3 separate regions of the Homo sapiens genome follow, and regions 2 and 3 are each linked to region 1. The links come from fine-mapping of genetic effects on gene expression. A gene starts in region 1. Each other region holds a variant in brackets. All regions are shown on one strand. Distances are between the middles of the regions. Region 1 holds the start of TMEM80 (transmembrane protein 80). Region 2 overlaps ANO9 (anoctamin 9). Region 3 has its middle 22 kb from the start of IFITM3.

The links. PIP is the estimated chance that this variant, and not a neighbour inherited with it, causes the effect.
Region 2: its variant is fine-mapped to the expression of TMEM80 in monocytes (CEDAR, PIP 0.95).
Region 3: its variant is fine-mapped to the expression of TMEM80 in Th1/17 cells (Schmiedel 2018, PIP 0.95).

What each region holds. Positions count from the first base shown.
Region 1 is chr11:692,088-698,384 of GRCh38, reverse strand. It overlaps TMEM80 (transmembrane protein 80), which reads right to left and starts at 2,569. Exons shown (of 5, transcript NM_001042463.3): 1 at 2,539-2,569. The coding sequence starts at 2,557. DEAF1 (DEAF1 transcription factor) reads left to right here and starts at 3,163. Exons shown (of 12, transcript NM_021008.4): 1 at 3,163-3,626. The coding sequence starts at 3,338. RefSeq lists enhancers at 1,025-1,564, 2,105-2,644, 2,645-3,186, 3,187-3,726 and silencers at 2,172-2,591, 3,092-3,391, 3,402-3,521, 3,542-3,791.
Region 2 is chr11:421,260-427,556 of GRCh38, reverse strand. The region is part of intron 15 of ANO9 (anoctamin 9); the gene reads left to right. Among named protein-coding and RNA genes, the nearest start is that of SIGIRR, 9.4 kb to the right of the region's middle. RefSeq lists an enhancer at 5,826-6,297. The variant A/TGTGTGTGA (reference allele first, on the strand shown) is at 3,672.
Region 3 is chr11:339,627-345,923 of GRCh38, reverse strand. No RefSeq gene overlaps it. Among named protein-coding and RNA genes, the nearest start is that of IFITM3, 22 kb to the right of the region's middle. The variant A/G (reference allele first, on the strand shown) is at 3,064.

The DNA.
Region 1 (6,297 bases):
AAATAAGGATTTTCCAAACCAGCAATGCAGCTGTCCAGTCTTTTTATCATGCAACCTCTTGGGCCTTCTCCCACCCCCACCTGAGAGATGACAGGAAGCCCGAGGAGTGAGTGGAGTCTCTTTCCTCCTTTTTGATTCTGAGGTTTTGCATCTGAAGACGCCTCTGACTCACCCTGGATCCACGCTGACCTGGAGCGGACTAATTGTCTGAAAAGGGCTCAGGCCAGTTGCACGTGTGATATGTGCACGTCCCTCCATGTGTAGATACCTCAATACACATCTAGAATTGGGTGGAAACCTCTCATAAAAGGAGGCTCAAGCTGCACCGCTGGGCGGCAGGCAGGACAGCAACCTGAACACAGCCTCTGTTCTATTTCCCCTTCAGCGCCAGGGAGGGCAGGACAGAAACCTGGCGTTGGTGAGATTTTGTGGCTGATCCCACAGCTTCTTGGGCAGATCTGGGGCCTTCTGTGCCAGAGTTTGTGGAATCTCACACAGGCAAGAGTTTTAAGCCAGTAAATACAGGACATCGGCATCAGAGACTCAGAACTGGGCTCCTGGAAGAGGCACCACAGGATGGAAGCAGGAAGCCAAGTGCACGGCAGACCACGCCGCATCGCGTTCCCGGCAGGCCACTCTTTAAACCCGATCTGTTCTTTTCCAGGCCTTAGCTAAACCAGGCCACCTAAATACCTGTCATTATCTGTGATGATTTCGCATTAATTGGGGTTTTTGTCCCTTCTGTTCCTTTTCTTAAAGGCTGGCTTCTTAAACACTTCCAATGTGTCTGCTAGTTGCTCACTGTTATAGATTGAAGTTATGGGGCTTGGGGGAAAAACTGTATAAAAGCCTTAAGTGATGTAACATTTTAATAATTAATATGAAGGGCGGCTATAACCAGATACGCTGTTCTAACAATTCCAGACCTGCAGGAGCTCATTCTGACCGAACGTAGCCTTGGCTTTCAGGACAACATTTTTTGTCAGTGACTTACTATAATCACAATGTGGCTACGAATAGCTGTGTCAGGCAGAAGTTAAACATGGAAGTGAAAGAGAACAAGTGTTTTCCCTGATGTAATGGACAAGATGTGTTAAGAAATCTTGTTTTGGTATACACTTAGTTTTTTTAGAGACAGGGTTTTGCTCTGTTGCCCAGGCTGGAGTGCAGTGGCCTGATCACAGCTCACTGCAGTCTCAACCTCCTGGGCTCCAGTGATCCGCCAGCCTCAGCCTCCCACGTAGCTGGGACCACAGGCTCCCTGAGGTAATTTTTTTTTTTTTTGAGACAGAATTTCGCTCTTGTTGCCCAGGCTGCAGTGCAATGGTGCGATCTTGGCCAACTGCAACCTCCGCACCCCACCCCCCCCACCACCACCACCGGGTTCGAGCAATTCTCCTGCCTCAGACTCTCAAGTAGCTGGGATTACAGGCATGCACCATCACGCCAGGCTAATTTTGTATTTTTAGTAGAGACGGGGTTTCTCCATGTTGGTCAGGCTGGTCTTGAACCCTCGACCTCAGGTGATCCGCCCGCTTTGGCCTCCCAAAGTGCTGGGATTACAGGCGTGAGCTACTGCGCCTGGCCTTCCCCGGGGTAATTTTTAATTTTTTTTTTGTAGAAGGGGGTCTCGCTCTGTCGCCCAGGCTGGAGTGCAGTGGCGCCATCACGGCTCACTGCAACCTCGACCTCCTGGGCTCAAGTGATCCGCCAGCCTCAGCCTCCAGAATAGCTTGGCCCACAGGGGTGCGCCACCGCCTGGCTGATGTTTACAGTTTTTTTTTTATAGAGGGGGTCTTGCTATGTTGCCCAGGCTGGCCTCAAATGATCCTGCAGCCTCGGCTTCCCAAACTGTCAGGCTTACAGGCCTGAGCCACTGCGCCCAACCTAAACTTAATTTTTAACCAAATGAAAATACACAAAACAAACCTGGTTACTAGAGGCTGTCCTGCCTATGGAGTAGCCATTCTTTATTCCTTCAAAACAATGCACCTAATTACTAGAGAACACGCACGAAGGTTTGGCACTTCAGCGCCCGCGTATGGGAGTTCTGGCTGTACCCACAGACAGCAGAAGGCGGCTCCTCTGCAGGATGGCCGATTTACTGCTTTGGTCTGTCCCTTCCTCCTCTCGGAGGCGAGTCTCTCAGGCAGGACGGCTGAGGCACCGGCGCCCGCGATTTTCTTTGGCGAGAGTTCCAAGGCTACCGAAACCCTGCGCCCATCCCGCCCACGTGTCTTCACAAAAACCACGCGCGGGACAAGAGCTGCCGGGGACTGGGGCCCCCAGAGCCGCTCCGCACCCACCCTGCCCGGGGCCAGGCGCCCGCGCGCGGGGGAGCTCTTCGGGGTGCAGGACGCCCGCCACCCAGGCCAGGCCAGGCCGCGCTTCTCGATGGGGTGACGGAGCTGTCTCGCTCACGTAGAGACGGTGGCACGGCCCCGTGAGCGCACCGAAAGCGGAAACCGGATTGTCACCACAGGGAAACGCCGCGCCCGCCGCTGCAAGCCCGGAAGCCCCCACCCCGCCCGAGCTCACCTCGCCGCGGGGCCGCCATCTTACCCGCCCCGCCCGCCGGTCCGTCGCGATCCCGGCAGCCTCTCGGCCCGCGCGCTCGCGCTCCTTCGGCCATTTTCGCGTCTCCTGACGAAGGGGCCCGACCGCGCCGCGTTTCGGGAGCGGACGTCCGAGCCACGGCCGAGGCCCGATTAGTCCGTCCGGCACCGCTCGGGCACTTTCGGAAGGGAAGAGGTGGAGAACCGACGTTCGGGAGCATTCGGCCTCGGGGACATTCGGCTCGTCTCGGCTCGGCCTCGGGCTGACTCGGCTTCCGCCGGCGGCGGGAACGGGCGAAACCCGCGGCACTAAGCTCTCTCTGAGAGGCAGAATTGCGCCGGCCGCCGGCGAGAATCTGCCTAGAGCCGTCCAGCCCTGTCGGCCGGGGACGACAGCCGCCTCAGCCTGTCAGGACAGTGAGGAGAGCAGGGGCCGAGTCTCTCGGAAGCCCTCGTGAGGACTCGGACCTATTCGGACTGATTCGGCTTCCCACTTCGGGGAACTTCGACCCTCCTCGGTTCAGGACTCGGTCTCGGCTCGGCGGCTTCGTGCAGGTTCGGCTCCTACTCGGGCAGCCTCTGTTCGCCTCGGCTCCGCTCCGCGGGCGGACTCGGCTCGGCTCTGCTCGGCGGCTGGCTGCCTTTTCGGTCCCTATTCGGGCGGCGGCTTCGGGCGGCCTCGGCCCAGCTCGGGCGTCCTCTTCGGGCCCCGCTTCGGGCTCCGCGACCGGCGCTTCGGGCGGTCCCGGACGGCGCCTTCGGGAAGGCTCGGCGGAGTCCGGATGGAGGACTCGGACTCGGCGGCAAAGCAGCTGGGCCTGGCTGAGGCGGCGGCGGTGGCGGCCGCGGCCGCTGTGGCGGCGGCGGCCGCGGCCGCGGCAGGAGGCGAGGCGGAGGAGCCGGTGCTGAGCAGGGACGAGGACTCGGAGGAGGACGCAGACTCGGAGGCGGAGCGGGAGACGCCGCGGGTCACGGCAGTGGCGGTGATGGCGGCGGAGCCCGGGCACATGGACATGGGCGCCGAGGCCCTGCCCGGCCCCGACGAGGCCGCCGCTGCCGCAGCCTTCGCAGGCAAGTGCGCCCGCCGGCCTCTCGCCTCGTCCGGTTCCCGCGCGCCTACCCCGCGCGCCTGCCCCGCACAACTGTCCCAGGTGACCAGCCCGCCACACCTGTCCCTCACACCTGCTCCACGTGACCAGCCCGCTCCACCCGCCCTGCACACCTGCCCCTCACACCTGCTCCACGTGACCCGCCCGCCCCACCCGCCCTGCACACCTGCCCCACGTGACTAGCTCACCCCTCACATCTGCCTCTCACACCTGCCCCACCCGCCCCTCACACTTTCCCCACGTACCTGCTCCAGGTGACCAGCCTGCCCCACCTGCCACAAATACCTGCCTCGCACACCTGCTCGACGTTTCCAGCCTTCCCCACCTGCCCCACGTGATCGGCCTGCCCTACCTGCCCCGCACACCTGCCCCACATACCTGCCCCAGGTGACCAGCCTGCCCCACCTACCCCAAACACCTGCCCCGCACACCTGCCCCTGGTGACCTGCCTAGCCTCACCTGACCTGGCCCTGCCCTGCACACACCTGCCCCCTGCCCCCCTTTTCTTTGTGGCAGCCCCGCCTCCTACTGGTCCCCCCTGTGCAGCTCTGCCCCTGCCCTGCCTTCGTCCATCCTGGCTCCCCCCACCTGTCCTGGAGAAGCCCTGGGGTGGGTGGGCACCTGTGGTCACCAGGAACCCCCCACTTCCTGAGGGCCAGTTCAGGCATGACCTGAGCGCTGGGGAGCCAGGGGTGGGCAGCCTGCTGGAGGCCATGATGCCAGAGGTCAGCGTGGCTGTGTGGTGGCCCAGGGGGGCTGCGGAGCCACCTGTGCAGGCTCCCCTCCCAGTCCTCCCTCTTCCTCTTGCCTTTTTCCCTAAGGACCTGCTCCTCCTGCCCCGCTTCCTGTCGGGCTTCCTTTGGGGAGGCTGCTGTGGCTTTCCAGTCCACATTTTTATATAAGCTGCTTATAGTTTCTTGCCACACAGGTCAGTCTCCTTCTCAGGCTCCAAAACACTGGGAGCCCGTGGCAGAGCTCACAGATGCCCTACGGGGCTGGTGCCGTCCACCCACCTCCTGTGTCCCGCCCTTGTGTCCGTGGGGCATAGACTTCCCCACCCACTGGCTTCCTAACGCACTGTATTCTTCCCCATTGGAGTTCCCGAGTGTCCCCCAGGGACTCACAGCTCAGTGTTGAGACCCTTGGGAGGAGCTTCTTGTTGCGTTGTGAGGCACTTTTCCCCTACGGAGCTTTGCGGGTTGAGGAACTGGATCCCAGTCCTGGTGTGCTGGGTATGTCAGGGCATTGCGTGTGCTCTGGGTGCTTGTTCGGCCTGGGGGCTGGGTGGGGGCCAGCAGCGTCTGGGCTGCCCTTGGTCAGCTGAGTGGCCCTCGAAGGCAAAGGGGTCACTGCTGCTTGTTTGGTTGGTTAAGAAAAAAAAGTGAGGGAAGGCTTTGTGACTCTCAGGGGTTGGCGTCCGTCGCTAAACTCTGGTTTGACGTTGGGATTTGGAGCCATGAGGTTGATTTCAGGTTTTTGTCATTTTTGCACGTATTTTTCTGAATGCATAAAAGAAAAATGATGCTGTTCATCATGATGTCAGAGAAATGTGCTGACGTGTGTTTTCTTCTGAAAAATATGGTAGTTGTGTTTTGATGTGGTAAAAGCACTTTAATACTTTTTAAAAATTACGAACAGCTGACGTCAAGTGGTTTCCAGGTTTAAGTAACTCAGCAGGACACGCTGCCGCCTGAGGAGGCTTTGGGCGGCTGCTCCCAGGGCTGCCATGGGCCTGGCGTTGAGCACTCACTGTGGCCGCGCGCCGCATGCCGGGGCTTGTGGTGCTGAGAGGCGAGGATGAGGGAACCGTGCACCTGGTGTGGTCTGGTCGTGGAGACAGACAGCAAACATGCCTTTTTTTTTTTTTGAGACGGAGTTTCGCTCTTGTTGCCCAGGCTGGAGTGCAATGGTGTGATCTCAGCTCACCGCAACCTCCCGCCTCCCGGGTTCAAGTGATTCTCCTGCCTCAGCCTCCCGAGTAGCTGGGATTACAGGCATGTGCCACCACGCCCGGCTAATTTTGTATTTTTAGTAGAGATGGGGTTTCTCTATGTTGGTCAGGCTGGTCTCGAACTCCTGACCTCAGGTGATCCGCCCGCCTTGGCATCCCACAGTGCTGGGATTACAGGCGTGAGCCACCGCGCCCGGCTGCAAACAGGCATTTTTAGGGCAGTTTGGTGAGTGCTGGGTTAATGGTATGGTCAGGACTCATTCAACCAGTATCTTTTAAGCATCTGCTGTGTGCCAGAGATTGCCCTGGACACAGGACATTCTAGAACTCTGGGTGACAGAAGAGCCACTTGCTTGGCCTAGGAGCATCACAGGAAGACTTTGCAGAGGCAGAGAGGAGGGTGTGGGGGTGTTGGCGGCAGAAAGTGTTTCTCTAGAAACACTCCAGCATGTAGAGGCTGGAGCTGCAGGACCTATCTGGGATGACAGGGGCAGGAGGTGGGGTGCAGCTGACCTCTGTGGTAACTGCCCTGTGTGCAGATGCTGCTGAAGGGCCTGTCTGCATGCCAGGGGGCTGAGTTCCATGTTGTAGGGGGTGCGGTGGGGTGGCACCAAGGGACATAGGCAGGTTAGATGTACTTTTTAGGAGGAAGGGGTCAGAGACCAAGGGCAATGGCTGTGAG
Region 2 (6,297 bases), 270 kb after region 1:
TCTCACCGTGTTACCCAGGCTGGTTTCGAATTCCTGGGCTCGAGCGATCCTCCTGCCTCAGTTTCCCAAAGTGTTAGGATTTCAGGCGTGAGCCACTGCACCTGGCCAAAAAAAGGTGCATATGGATTGATGGAGCCAGAAAGACTCATTTCACTAATTAGGAAGGCGAGGTGAGAGGGATGCTGGCTGCAGCTTTACTTTTTTTTTGAGATGGAGTCTCGCTCTGTCGCCCAGGCTGGAGTGCAGTAGCATGATCTTGGCTCGCTACAACCTCTGCTTCCTGGGTTCAAGCAATTCTCCTGCCTCAGCCTCCTGAGTGGCTGGGACCACAGGTGCGCACCACCACACCCAGCTAATTTTTGTATTTTTTGTAGAGAAAGGGTTTCACCATGTTGGCCAGGCTGGTCTCGAGCTCCTGACCTCAGGTGAGCCACCACGTCTGGCCCTGTAGATGCTGGTTCTTGACCCCCATCCGTCTTGGGAAAGGCGTGCACCATGGCTTGCTGTGGGCCACGTCTCTCCTGGTGGGACCTCTCACTCTGGAAGCTCCTGCGGGTGAACCCTGGTCTCCTGTCTGGAGGCAGAAGGACGCTGTCTATGTGCTGGGAGGCCAGCTGGGGTTGGGGAGGACAGTGTGGGGCCTCAGTGTCAATTGGTCCAACCCTGTGTGCTGAGTCCCTGGTTGTTCAAACCCCTAGTGAGCTTCTAGTCCTCCTGAGGGGGTTTTGTGGTCAGGTAGGAAGCCCAGGGACCTTCCAGCTGGGCCTGCATTCCCCTAATCAGTGCCCCCAAGCCACCAGGGGTACCCAAGTCCCGAGGCTTCCTGGGGATCCTGGCAGGGCTGGGTTGCTTCCTGAGTGTCTCCCCCGAAAGCCTGATGTCTTGAGTGGACTTCAGGCCTCTCCAATTCCCTTACACCTCTAAGGTGATGCCTGGTAGTGGGTGTCAGCAGCCTGTCATTTTATTTTTATTTATTTACTTTTAGAGACAGTATCTTGATCCATTGCCCCAGGCTGGAGTACAGTGGTACCATTACAGCTCACTACAGCCTCAAACTCCTGGTTCCAGCAATCCTCCTGCCTCAGCCTCCCGAATAGCTGGGACTACAGGCATGTGCCACCATGCCTGGCTAATTTTTTCTATTTTTTGTAGAGATGGGGTTTTGCCATGTTGCCCAGGCTTGTCTCGAACTCCTGGGCTCAAGCAATCCTCCTGCCTCGGCCTCCCAACGTGCTACGGGATAACAGGTGTGAGCTACCGCACCTGCAGTCTCAAGCAATCCTCCTGCCTTGGTGTCCCCACGTGCTGGGATGACAGGTGTGACCCACTGCACCTGCAGTCGCCATTTTAATTGTGACTTGGGAGTTTGCATTTACATTAACATAGATCCTGCTAAAGAGACCTCCAGAAAGGCTGTGTCAGTGACAAAGCTACCCACAGTGTGTGAAACTATATGTTCCATCTTGAGCTGATGGGCAAAGTCTTTTCATTTTTTAAAAGTGCCTTTAAAAAACTACTGGTGAGGGGCTGGGCGAGGTGGCTCACGCCTGTCATCTCAGCACTTTGGGAGGCCGAGGCACGAGGATCATGAGGTCAAGAGATTGAGAGTATCCTGGCTAACACGGTGAAACCCCATCTCTACTAAAAAAAAATACAAAAAATTAGCCGGGCGTGGTGGCGGGCACCTGTAGTCCCAGCTACTGGGGAGGCTGAGGCAGAATGGTGTGAACCCGGGAGGCAGAGCCTGCAGTGAGCTGAGATCGCGCCACTGCACTCCAGCCTGGGCGACAGAGTGAGACTCCGTCTCAAAAAAAACAAAACAAACAAACAAACAAAAAACAAAAAACAAAAAACTATTGGTGAAGTCTAGCATCTTTCCAGATATTTACTGATCATTGTATTTTTTTTCCTATGAATTGACTGTTCATATTATCGGAGCATTTTTGTTAGGTTATCGTAGCATGAAGGCCAGGCTTCTTTCTTGCTTGCTTTTTTTTTTTTTTAACTGTCAGTTTCTTATAATCATGGTATGTTTTACTTTGCATCATATTTGTAACATTTATTGTACAGCTCTTTGTTTTTCCTGGAGTTTCTTTATCTTTTGTTGTTTTTGATTTTGTCTGCCTTCCAATCCATCTCCTGGGGTTTCTACTTGCCTCTTTTTCTTGAATGTCTTTATCAATTGTATCCAGCCTCTCTGTGGTACATCGTGTATTGCACGGAGTCCCTTTTCTTCCAGAGATCTTCCTTGGGAGCCTTTTCCTCCCGCGCGTCCCGTCTCTCCACGCCGCCTTTTGCTCCCGCGCGTCCCGTCTCTCCACGCCGCCTTTTCCTCCCGCGCGTCCCGTCGCTCCACGCCGCCTTTTCCTCCCGCGCGTCCCGTCTCTCCACGCCGCCTTTTCCTCCCGCGCGTCCCGTCTCTCCACGCCGCCTTTTCCTCCCGCGCGTCCCGTCTCTCCACGCCGCCTTTTCCTCCCGCGCGTCCCGTCTCTCCACGCCGCCTTTTCCTCCCGCGCGTCCCGTCTCTCCACGCCGCCTTTTCCTCCCGCGCGTCCCGTCTCCCCGCCGCCTTTTCCTCCCGCGCGTCCCGTCTCCGCGCCGCCTTTTCCTCCCGCGCGTCCCGTGTCCATGTCTCCTCCTTGTAACATCTGGAGAGATTTCCTTCACTTTGTGCCTTTTTCTCCATCGATTGATTTCTTTGTTTTACGTTTAACAATTAAAGTCTTAATTTCTAAGAGTGTTTTGTTTCCTCTTTATTTTTTATTCACAGCATCCCTTCCGTGTTTTTATGTTCTTGAGGATTTCAATTAGGTTTTCCTTCTCCCTGAGTTCTCATCTGTTCCCTAATTATCTCTTGTTTCCTAAAGGGTCCATTTTTGTTTTTTAATCGTTATTCTCCTCTTACTCCTCTGTGAGTAAATCTCTGTGGTTATTCATTCGTATTAAAGACCAAGGAACTGAATTGATTTTTCTTGATGGATGAGATGGGTCTGTATAATAGTAGCTACATCCATTGCCCACTCACACATTCTATCATTAACTCATTTAATCTGCACAGTAGCCCTATAGGGCAGAGCTTCTCTCATTGCCATTTTACAGAATAGATGACTGAGGACCAGAGAGGTTAAGAAATTATCTCCAGGACACACAGCCAGTGGGTGGCGGAACAGATAAAAACCACAAAGTCTGGCTCTAGAGCTTAGTTCTGTGCCTCTTTGCATGGGGAGGTCTCTCGGAAAACAGCGTGAAAAATCTACCTGGTTTCTCATGTTACACTAGAGCAAATTTTCTTTTTGACAGTATTCCTTTATGGTTCTATTTTTTCATGCCACTCCTCAAGATTAATAAATATGTTCAACTGTGGGCCAGGTGCAGTGGCTTATGCCTGAAATCCCAGCACTTTGGGAGGCTGAGGCAGGCAGATCACCTGAGGTCAGGAGTTCAAGACCAGACTGGCCAACATGAAGAAACCCCGTCTCTACTAGCCAGGCGTGGTGGTGTGAGCCTGTAGTCCCAGCTACTCGGGAGGCTGAGGCACAAGAATCACTTGAACCCAGGAGGCAGAGGTTGCAGTGAACTGAAATCGCACCATTGCGCTCCAGCCTGGGTGACAGAGTGAGGCTCCATCTCAAATGTGTGTGTGTGTGTGTGTGTGTGTGTGTGTGTGTGTG[A/TGTGTGTGA]GTATTCAACTGTGATTTCCTTTAGATGTTTATGATTTCAAAATATTAAACATTTGGCTGAGTGCAGTGGCTCATGCTTGTAATCCCAGCATTTTGGGAGGCCAAGGTAGGAGGATTACTTGAGGCTGGGAGTTCAAGACCAGCCTGGGCAATGTAGTGAGACCCACTGCCCCCAAACCCCCCACCGCACGTCTCTACAAAAAATAGAAAATTAGTTGGGCGTGGTGGTTTGGGCCTGTAGTCCTAGCTACTTGGGAGGCTGAGGTAGGAGGATCGCTGGAGCCTGGGAGGTGGAGGCTATAGTGAGCCATAATCTCACCATTGCACTCCAGCCCGAGTGACAGAGATCCTGTCACAAAAACCCTTAAACCTTCAAATCCCTGACTTGTAAGGAATTTGTTTTGCTGCAAGGGGCAGAGGAAGGAAGGCTGTTTGTTTGTTTTCCAAATGGCACCCAGTTGTCCCCAAACCATTGATTGACTAACCATCCCCATCACCATTCTTAACTTGAAATGCCTTCTTCGTCATACACCAAATTCCATTCTTTGCTTATATATTGTCTTCTCATGGATTCTGACAATTCCAGTACCAGCCCCTTGCTGTGCTGGGTATTATTGCTTTATGCCTTGCTGTAGGGTGGGGCTAGCTGCTGTCCATCACTCTTCTTTTCTACTTTTTTAATGGTTATTTACATATGTTTATTCTTTCAGATGAATGTCAGAATCATTTTGTCAAATTGCCAAAAATTCTGTGAGACTAGCTGGGTGTGGTGGCTCACGCCTGTAATCCCAGCACTTTGGGAGGCCGAGGTGGGCGGATCATGAGGTCAGGAGTTCGAGACCAGCCTGGCCAGCATGGTGAAACCCCGTCTTTACTAAATATACAAAAATTAGCCAGGCGTGGTGGCGCGCACCTGTAATCCCAGCTACTCAGGAGGCTGAGGCAGGAGAATCACTTAAACCCGGAAGGTGGAGGTTGTAGTGAGCCAAGATCATGCCATTGCACTCCAGCCTGGGTGACAGAGCAAGACTCTGTCTGAAAAAAAAAAAAAAAATTCTGTGGGACTTGGCTTAAGATTGTATAAGTAAAATGATACATTATTTCCAAGAAAATCACCATAACAAACGACCACAGCTTAGTGGCTTCAAACAATCAAATTATTACCTCCCAGTTCTGCAGGCCACAAGTCCTAGATGAGTCCCACTGGGTGAAAACTAAGGGGTTAGCAGGGCTGGGCTCCTTCTGGAGGCTCCAGGGGATAATTCACTTTCAGCTTCTCCTTGGTGCACGGCTGCTCCTCCCCCTGCAGAGCTTGCAGCGTGGGGCTGAGTCCTTCTGAGTGAGTCCTGAGTCCTTCTGATTCCTTCTGAGTCAGGCCAGCTCCCAGCTGCTCCCTGTCCCCACAGAGGGACCCTTGTGATTACACCAGAAAAACCCAGATAACCCAAGATAATCTCCCCGTCTTAAAGTCAGCTGATTAGCAGCCTTAATACCATCTGCCTTGTGAGATAAAATTCCTTTGCCAGGTAAGAACGTGGTCACAGGCTCCAAGAATGAGCACGTGGACGTCTTTGCGGCCCATCGCTCTGACTACAAATACATCCTCCGTTTTCTTATGGGAGAACGAGGTTCTCCCTGCAAGTCTTTCATGCTCCTTGGTAGTTTTATAGTTTTCTTCATTTAGGCCCCACAGATGCCTTGTGAGTTTCAGTCTCGTTATGGTATAACTTGTGCTGGTGTCTGCGGGTGACCGATACTTTCTCATGCCATGTTTCCCCGCAGCTTTGCCGCACACGGAAAAGCCAGTTCTGCTGGATGCTCGTTTTGTATCCACTTGAGCACTCGATTGATTTATCCACCCAGGCTTTCAGTTGTTTTATTTTGATTTTCCAGGTACATAATCATGTTTTCTAAAAGAGTCATTTTTTTCTTTGCAAATGTATACTATTTATACTTCATATTTCTCTTGCTTATTTGCAAGGAATTCCAGAACCGTGTTAAATACCAGTTGTCGTGAGCTACAATAGGAATGCTTTTGGGATTTCACCACTGACCATGAGCCTGACTTTTGGTTTAAGATAGTTCATGTATTTCTCATATTATGGAAAGCAGGTGATTTTAAACACAAAATAACCCATCGTGCCGTTTCCACGGGGAGAAACCGAGGCCACTCGTAACAGACACTGTCTGGAGCGTGTGTTGGAGCCTGTGGCCTTGCCTGTGTGTGTGTGTGTGCGCCCACGTGCAGGTGCGGTTCGTCTGGGAGCCTGTGGCCTCCCCTGTGTGGGGGTGTGTGTGTGTGTGCGCGCGCCCACGTGTGGGTGCGGTTCATCTGGGAGCCTGTGGCCTCCCCTGTGTGTGTGTGGGTGTGTGTGCGCCCACGTGCAGGTGCGGTTCGTCTGGGAGCCTGTGGCCTCCCCTGTGTGGGGGTGTGTGTGTGTGTGCGCGCGCCCACGTGTGGGTGCGGTTCATCTGGGAGCCTGTGGCCTCCCCTGTGTGTGTGTGTGTGTGTGTGCGTGCCCACGTGCGGGTGCGGTTCATCTGGGTGTGAGCACCTGTGCCCCGCTCACCTGCAGGGCCTGCCCCGCCTGTTCTGTGTCTTTCCTACCCGCTTCTGTCCTGCTGC
Region 3 (6,297 bases), 350 kb after region 1:
AGTGATAGCTTTGGCCGGGCACGGTGGCTCACGCCTGTAATCCTAGCATTTTGGGAGGCGGAGGCAGGCAGATCACCTGAGATCAGGAGTTTGAGACCAGCCTGGCCAATATGGCGAAGCTCTGTCTCTAGTAAAAATACAAAAATTAGCCAGGCATGGTGGCGGGCACCTGTAGTCCCAGCTACTTGAGAGGTTGAGGCAGGAGAATCGTTTGAACCTGGGAGGCGGAGCTTGCAGTGGGCGGAGATCACGCCACTGCACTCCAGCATGGGTGACAGAGTGAGACTCCATCTCAAAAAAAAAAAAAAGAAAGAAAGAAAGTGACAGCCTTTCCCCCACCGAACAGATTGTGATAGAAGGAGTGCTGGCTTTTATAGTATTATGACGGCCAGAATTATAAAAAGGCAATGGACCCAACTGAAGAGTGGACATTGCGTCGCCAGCTCCGTTGAGAATGGTGCTAGGAATTATCGTGGAAGAATAAAGAAAGGGCACATGCAACACGGAGCTGAGAGGAGGGAAAGAGAGAGGGGTGCATACCTGTCACTATTCCATGTTCTAGAAGGGGGAGCCAAAAGCAGTGGGAGAAAGAAATACCCGAATAAATAATACAGCTAACATTCCCAGAATTGAGGAAAGATGAAGGGCTTCAGACCGAAAGGCTGCAAAGAGGTGAGATAAGAAATAACCTACATTTTCATGTACCACAGTGAAACTGAAGAGTATCAAAGAAAAAGTTCCAGAAAGAGAAAGTTCCAGAAAGAAAAAATAGGTCTCCTACAATGAAACAGGAATTAGATTGATACCCGATTTCTCAGAAAATTATGTTGAAATAATTAATTGGGAGGCCATTAGATTGAGGACGCTCCCAGTGCCCTGAGTTCTTAGATAAGGTAACTGAAACCCAACTCAGCATGAATGGCTGGATCCTAACATGACTTCAAACTAGACACAATCATTAGATACCATGAAAACGCAGCTTCAAACTAAGGACTTTGAAGCTACTGCTTTAATTTAACCAATCAATTTTTTGTTTATTTGTTTGTTTGTTTGTTTGAGACAGAGTCTTGCTCTGTCACCCAGGCTGGAGTGCAGTGGCACGATCTTGGCTCACTGCAACCTCTGCCTCCCGGGTTCACGCCATTCTCCTGCCTCAGCCTCCTGAGTAGCTGGGACTACAGGCGCCCACCACCACACCCGGCTATTTTTTTTGTGTGTGTGTTTTTTGTAGAGACGGGGTTTCACTGTGTTAGCCAGGATGGTCTCGATCTCCTGACCTCGTGATCCGCCCGCCTCGACCTCCCAAAGTGCTGGGATTACAGGCATGAGCCCCCGCGCCGGGCCCAATTTTTTTTTATAAATTTTGCTTCCATGTGTACCTTGTAAATGTTTTCCGGGAGCCCTGAATGACTTGCAGTTTGGAGCTGCCCAATTCATGAATTGCTGTTTGCTAAAATAGACCCTAAAATTTTTTAATGTGTCTGTTTATCTTTTTAGCAGTTCAGGTGTCAGAAGGGAGACCTGGAAGAGTCTCCTCCTGGCCATAAAGACACCTGGCAGCAATGAAGAATCTGGTGTGGACGCCTGTGGAGCCTCTGTACTCACTGCTTTCTTGCTGCTGATGTGGAATCCCCACCAGTAGATCCCTCCTGGATGCTGTTGCAGGAAATCGGGAAGCTGGAGAGATGGAACGGGGTGAAGGAGAGTTTATTTAAGGTGTACACCGGCTCAGCAGACATGCGTCCTGAAAGTCTGAGCACCAGACAAAGAAGGCAGTTGCCTTTTTTTTTTTTTTTGAGACGGAGTCTCACTCTGTTGCCCAGGCTGGAGTGCAGTGGTGCGATCTTGGCTCACTGCAAGCCCTGCCTCCCGGGTTCACGCCATTCTCGTGCCTCAGCCTCCCGAGTAGCTGGGACTACAGGCGCCTGCCACCACGCCCAGCTAATTTTTTTGTATTTTTAGTAGAGACAGGGTTTCACTGTGTTAGCCAGGATGTTCTCGATCTCCTGACCTGGTGATCTGCCCGTCTTGGCCTCCCAAAGTGCTGGGATTACAGGCGTCAGCCACCGTGCCTGGCCTAATTTTTCTACTTCATGCAAGTTCCACAACTTTCATCCTAAGATCTCCAACTTTATTTGAGCATTAAAGAAAAAAAAAAATTCCAGGGCCAAGCACAGTGGCTCATGCCTGTAATCCCAGCACTTTGGGAGGCTGAGGTGGGCAGATCACGAGGTCAGGAGTTCAAGACCAGCCTGGCCAAGATGGTGAAACCCTGTCTCTACTAAAACTACAAAAATTAGCCAGGTGTGGTGGCAGGTGCCTGTAATCCCAGCTGCTCGGGAGGCTGAAGCAGGAGAATCGCTTGAACTCGGGGGGCGGAGGTTGCAGTGAGCCGAGATCGTGCCATTGCACTCCAGCCTGGGCGACAGAGTGATACTCAGTCTCAAAAAAAAAAAAAAAAATCCAGACTAGATCTAGCGTCAAACTGGATCTATCAGAAACTGAACTGGGCCTAGTAGGCATCTTCACATAGGTAAGGGTTTGGGAAGACAGAATAATGAGTTTATCTGAATCCACAGAGTCTGAGATTCCTCCACCTGAGAACCAGTACTTGTCTAGAGAAACTGGTGAACTTTACCAAAGACACCTTAGAATTAAGTGGTGGCCGCAGTGGGTAAGTGATGACCTAGACAAAGCTGTTCATCTGTGGTATCCACTGCAAAAGATGGGATCCAAAGCAACTAAGAGAAAATGGAATGCATTTTTTAATTCACATGTTGTTTTTGACACAGAGTCTCACTCTGTCACCCAGGCTGGAGTGCAGTAGTGTGATCTCGGCTCACTGCAACCTCCACCTCCTGGGTTCAAGTGATTCTCCTGCCTCAGCCTCCTGAGTAGCTGGGACTACAGGCATGCACCACCAAGCCCAGCTAATTTTTTGTATTTTTAGTAGAGATGGGTTTTCGCCATGTTGCCGGGCTGGTCTCGAACTCCTGAGCTCAAGTGATCCATCTGCCTCAGCCTCCCAAAGTGCTGGGATTACAGGCGAGAACCTCCATGCCC[A/G]GATGATTTTTTGATTGGCATGCACAGGCTGCTAAAAGACTAAATGAATCCCAAGTTGTCTCTCTAAAAGACTCCATAGAAAAAGGCAAATAGAAAACCAAAGCAGTTAATTGACAATGAAAAAGGGCATGTCTACTGACTCAGCACAGATGAGCCCTTCTCTCTTTCTCTCCATCTTGCTCTGCCAGATTGCTCTGAACTACTCACTTTTTTGCTCAGTAACTTTTATACCCCAGAGGCAAAAAGAAAGTTAGCCAAACTTTCATCGTGTTAGGCCTTTAGATCAACCAGGCCTTCCTTCTTTAACCACATTGACATCTTGATTAAAATCTGAGCTCAGAACAATAGTGAAAGGTTTCCCTGTCCCAGAAATTTGCTGATGATGTAGAATTATATCCTGGCCTATTCATGCTAACTCCAGGCATGGAAAATGCTTGCCAGTTCATCAGTAGGCGCCACCCTGAACTCAGTGATGGAGTTAAAAAGCATAAACTGGGCTGAGAAGCCTCTGATCTAGCCAACGTAGGCCCCAAATGTGCTACTCTGGCATAAAGATTATTTTGATCCAATTCTTTTGAGACCCTTTGTAAGAAAAATTTAATTCTATAAAGGAGATAGAAGTGGTGGCTCATGCCTATAATGCCAGCACTTTGGGAGGCTGAGGGAGGAGGGTTGCTTGAGCCCAGGAGTTCAAGACCAGCCTGGGTGACATAGTAAGAGTCGGTGTATTAGTCCCTTCTCTCATTGCTGTAAAGAACTATCTGAGTCTGGGTAATTTATACAGAAAAGAGGTTTAGGCTGGGTGTGGTGGCTCATGCCTTAATCACAGCACTTTGGGAGGCTGAGGCAGGTTGAGGTCAGGAGTTTGAGACCAGCCTGGCCAACATGGTGAAACCCCATCTCTACTAAAAATACAAAAATTAGCCAGGTATGGTGGCGTGCACCTGTAATCCCAGCTACTCAGCTGGCTAAGGCAGGACAATTGCTTCAGTCTGGGAGGTGGACGTTGTAGTGAGCTGAGATCGCGCCACTGCACTCCAGCCTGGGTGACACAGCAAGACTGTGTCTCAAAAAAAAAAAAGGCAAAAGAAAAGAGGACACATGGCTGGGGAGGCCTCAGGAAAGTTACAATCATGGCAGAAGGTGAAGAGGAAGGGGGCACGTCTTGCATGGCTGGAGCAGGAGGAAGAGACAGAAGGGGGAGGTGCCACACACTTTTAAACAACCAGATCTCATGAGAACTCACTATCCTGAGAACAGCAAGGGGTAAGTCTGCCCCCATGATCCAATCACCTCCCACCAGGCTCCTCCTCCAACACTGAGGATTACAATTTGACATGAGATTTGGGTGGGGACACAAATCCAAACCCTCTCACCCCATCTTTACAAAGAAATTTAACCAACAGTTTGAGGTTGCAGTGAGCTATGATCGCACCACTGCACTCCAGCCGGGTTGTAAAATAAGACTCTGTCTCAAAACAAAACAAAACAAAACAAAGTAAACAACAAAAAAAAAGAATGGAGAAAGCATTGATTTAAATCTACATCACAAAACTTACCTTTACTTAGCGTGCATTTCTGACCCCCATCTTGGCTTAATTAGCGCTTTGCTTGCTTTCTCTCTCTTTTTTCTTTTCTTTTCTTTCCTTTCCTTTTCCTTCCTTCCTTTCTTTCTCATTCCTTCCTTCTTCCCTTCCCTTTCCTTCCTTTCTTCCTTCCCTCCTTCCTCCTCTTTCCTTTTCCTTCCTTCCTTTTCTTTTTCTTTCTTTCTTTTTTCTTTCTTTCCTTCCTTCCTTCTTTCCTTGTTCTTGCTTTTTTCTTTCTTCTTTCCTTCCCTTCCCTTCCCTTCCCTCCCTTCCTTCCTTCTTTCTTTCCTTGTTCTTGCTTGCTTGCTTTTTTCTTTCTTTCCTTTCCTTCCCTTCCCTTCCCATCCCTTCCCCTTCCTTCCTTCCTTCCTTCTTTCTCCTTCTCTTTTTTTCTCTTCCTTTCTTTCTTTTCTCTTTCTCTTTCTTTTTTTCATTTCTTTCTTTTTTTCTCTTCTTCAAATGAAGATATTTAAGGCTGAAGTCTAAGTTCTGTGCCTTTGAGATGTAAATTTTCTACTCTGCTCAAACACCTGAGGGTTATCTCTTTGATATGCAAATTTTGGGAAGCCATCTTATGAGAAAAGAAAAAAAAAGAGCTATATGGAAATTGGGCAAATGAAAAACCTTAAGTCTTTCCCGCAAATATTAATAAAAGCTTTAATCATCTGGCAAGTAATTTTGACTTGTTCCATGTGCCAGAAACAAGATTTGAAGCCTATTGTTCTTGTATTAAACAGTGTGTTTTGTATTACTGTGCTTGGCATGTGGCTAAGATTTTAGAATGAAGCTGTAACACTCTAGTGTCTGAAGAGTGTGAAAAAAAAAAAGAAAGCTATATGATCTGCTTCTGTCTGTATGTTTATGTATGTCTATGTATACATGTACACGTGACATTTTCCTACTCTAGATTGCGTTGCCAAAATTAATTTATAAAAAAGTGGTATTTAATTGGCTTAAAGAAAAATATGAGCTTATATAAGTTGAGTTATCCTTAAACTCTTAGAAATATAGAAACTAACCCAAATGTTTTTTAAATTTCATGTCATCTGAGATTATAGTTGGTAAATAAATGCTATTTAAACTTTTCTGGTTTAATGAAATATTTAGAGTTGTCAGCATTAAATAAAACGCAGACACACAACTTTGGTTTTACCTAGGTTTATTAGGCAAAAACTTATGTTATCTCTGTTACAAGAGTTGCCACCAAGAAAAGCAATTTGATGATGTCTAGCCTTGTCTGCTGTTATGAAACATCTACTTAAAAGCAGCTTGCCGATTCTCTTTGGTAGCTTGCACTGTTAGAGTCAAGTTAAATTAAATGATGGTTATTCATCGACTATCTAGAAAGATATTTTTTAAACCTTATTTTTTTTGAATAACATAAAATACTGAAACTTTGATTGCTAAACATAAGCTTGTCTACTTTTGGCTTCTTATTATAGAAGTACTAAACATACTTGTCTCTGCCAGCAAACACATCCTGTGCCATATTGAAAAATTGTATGATAAAGAAACACACACTTCTAGAAATTATGACATGGTATATTCACAGATTTGCCAATCTGCAGAATGTTGGTATGTATGCAAAAAGTTGACAAGTGTTTACTTGCTAGTTTTCACTAGAAACCAAGGTTAATAGCTGGTGTGG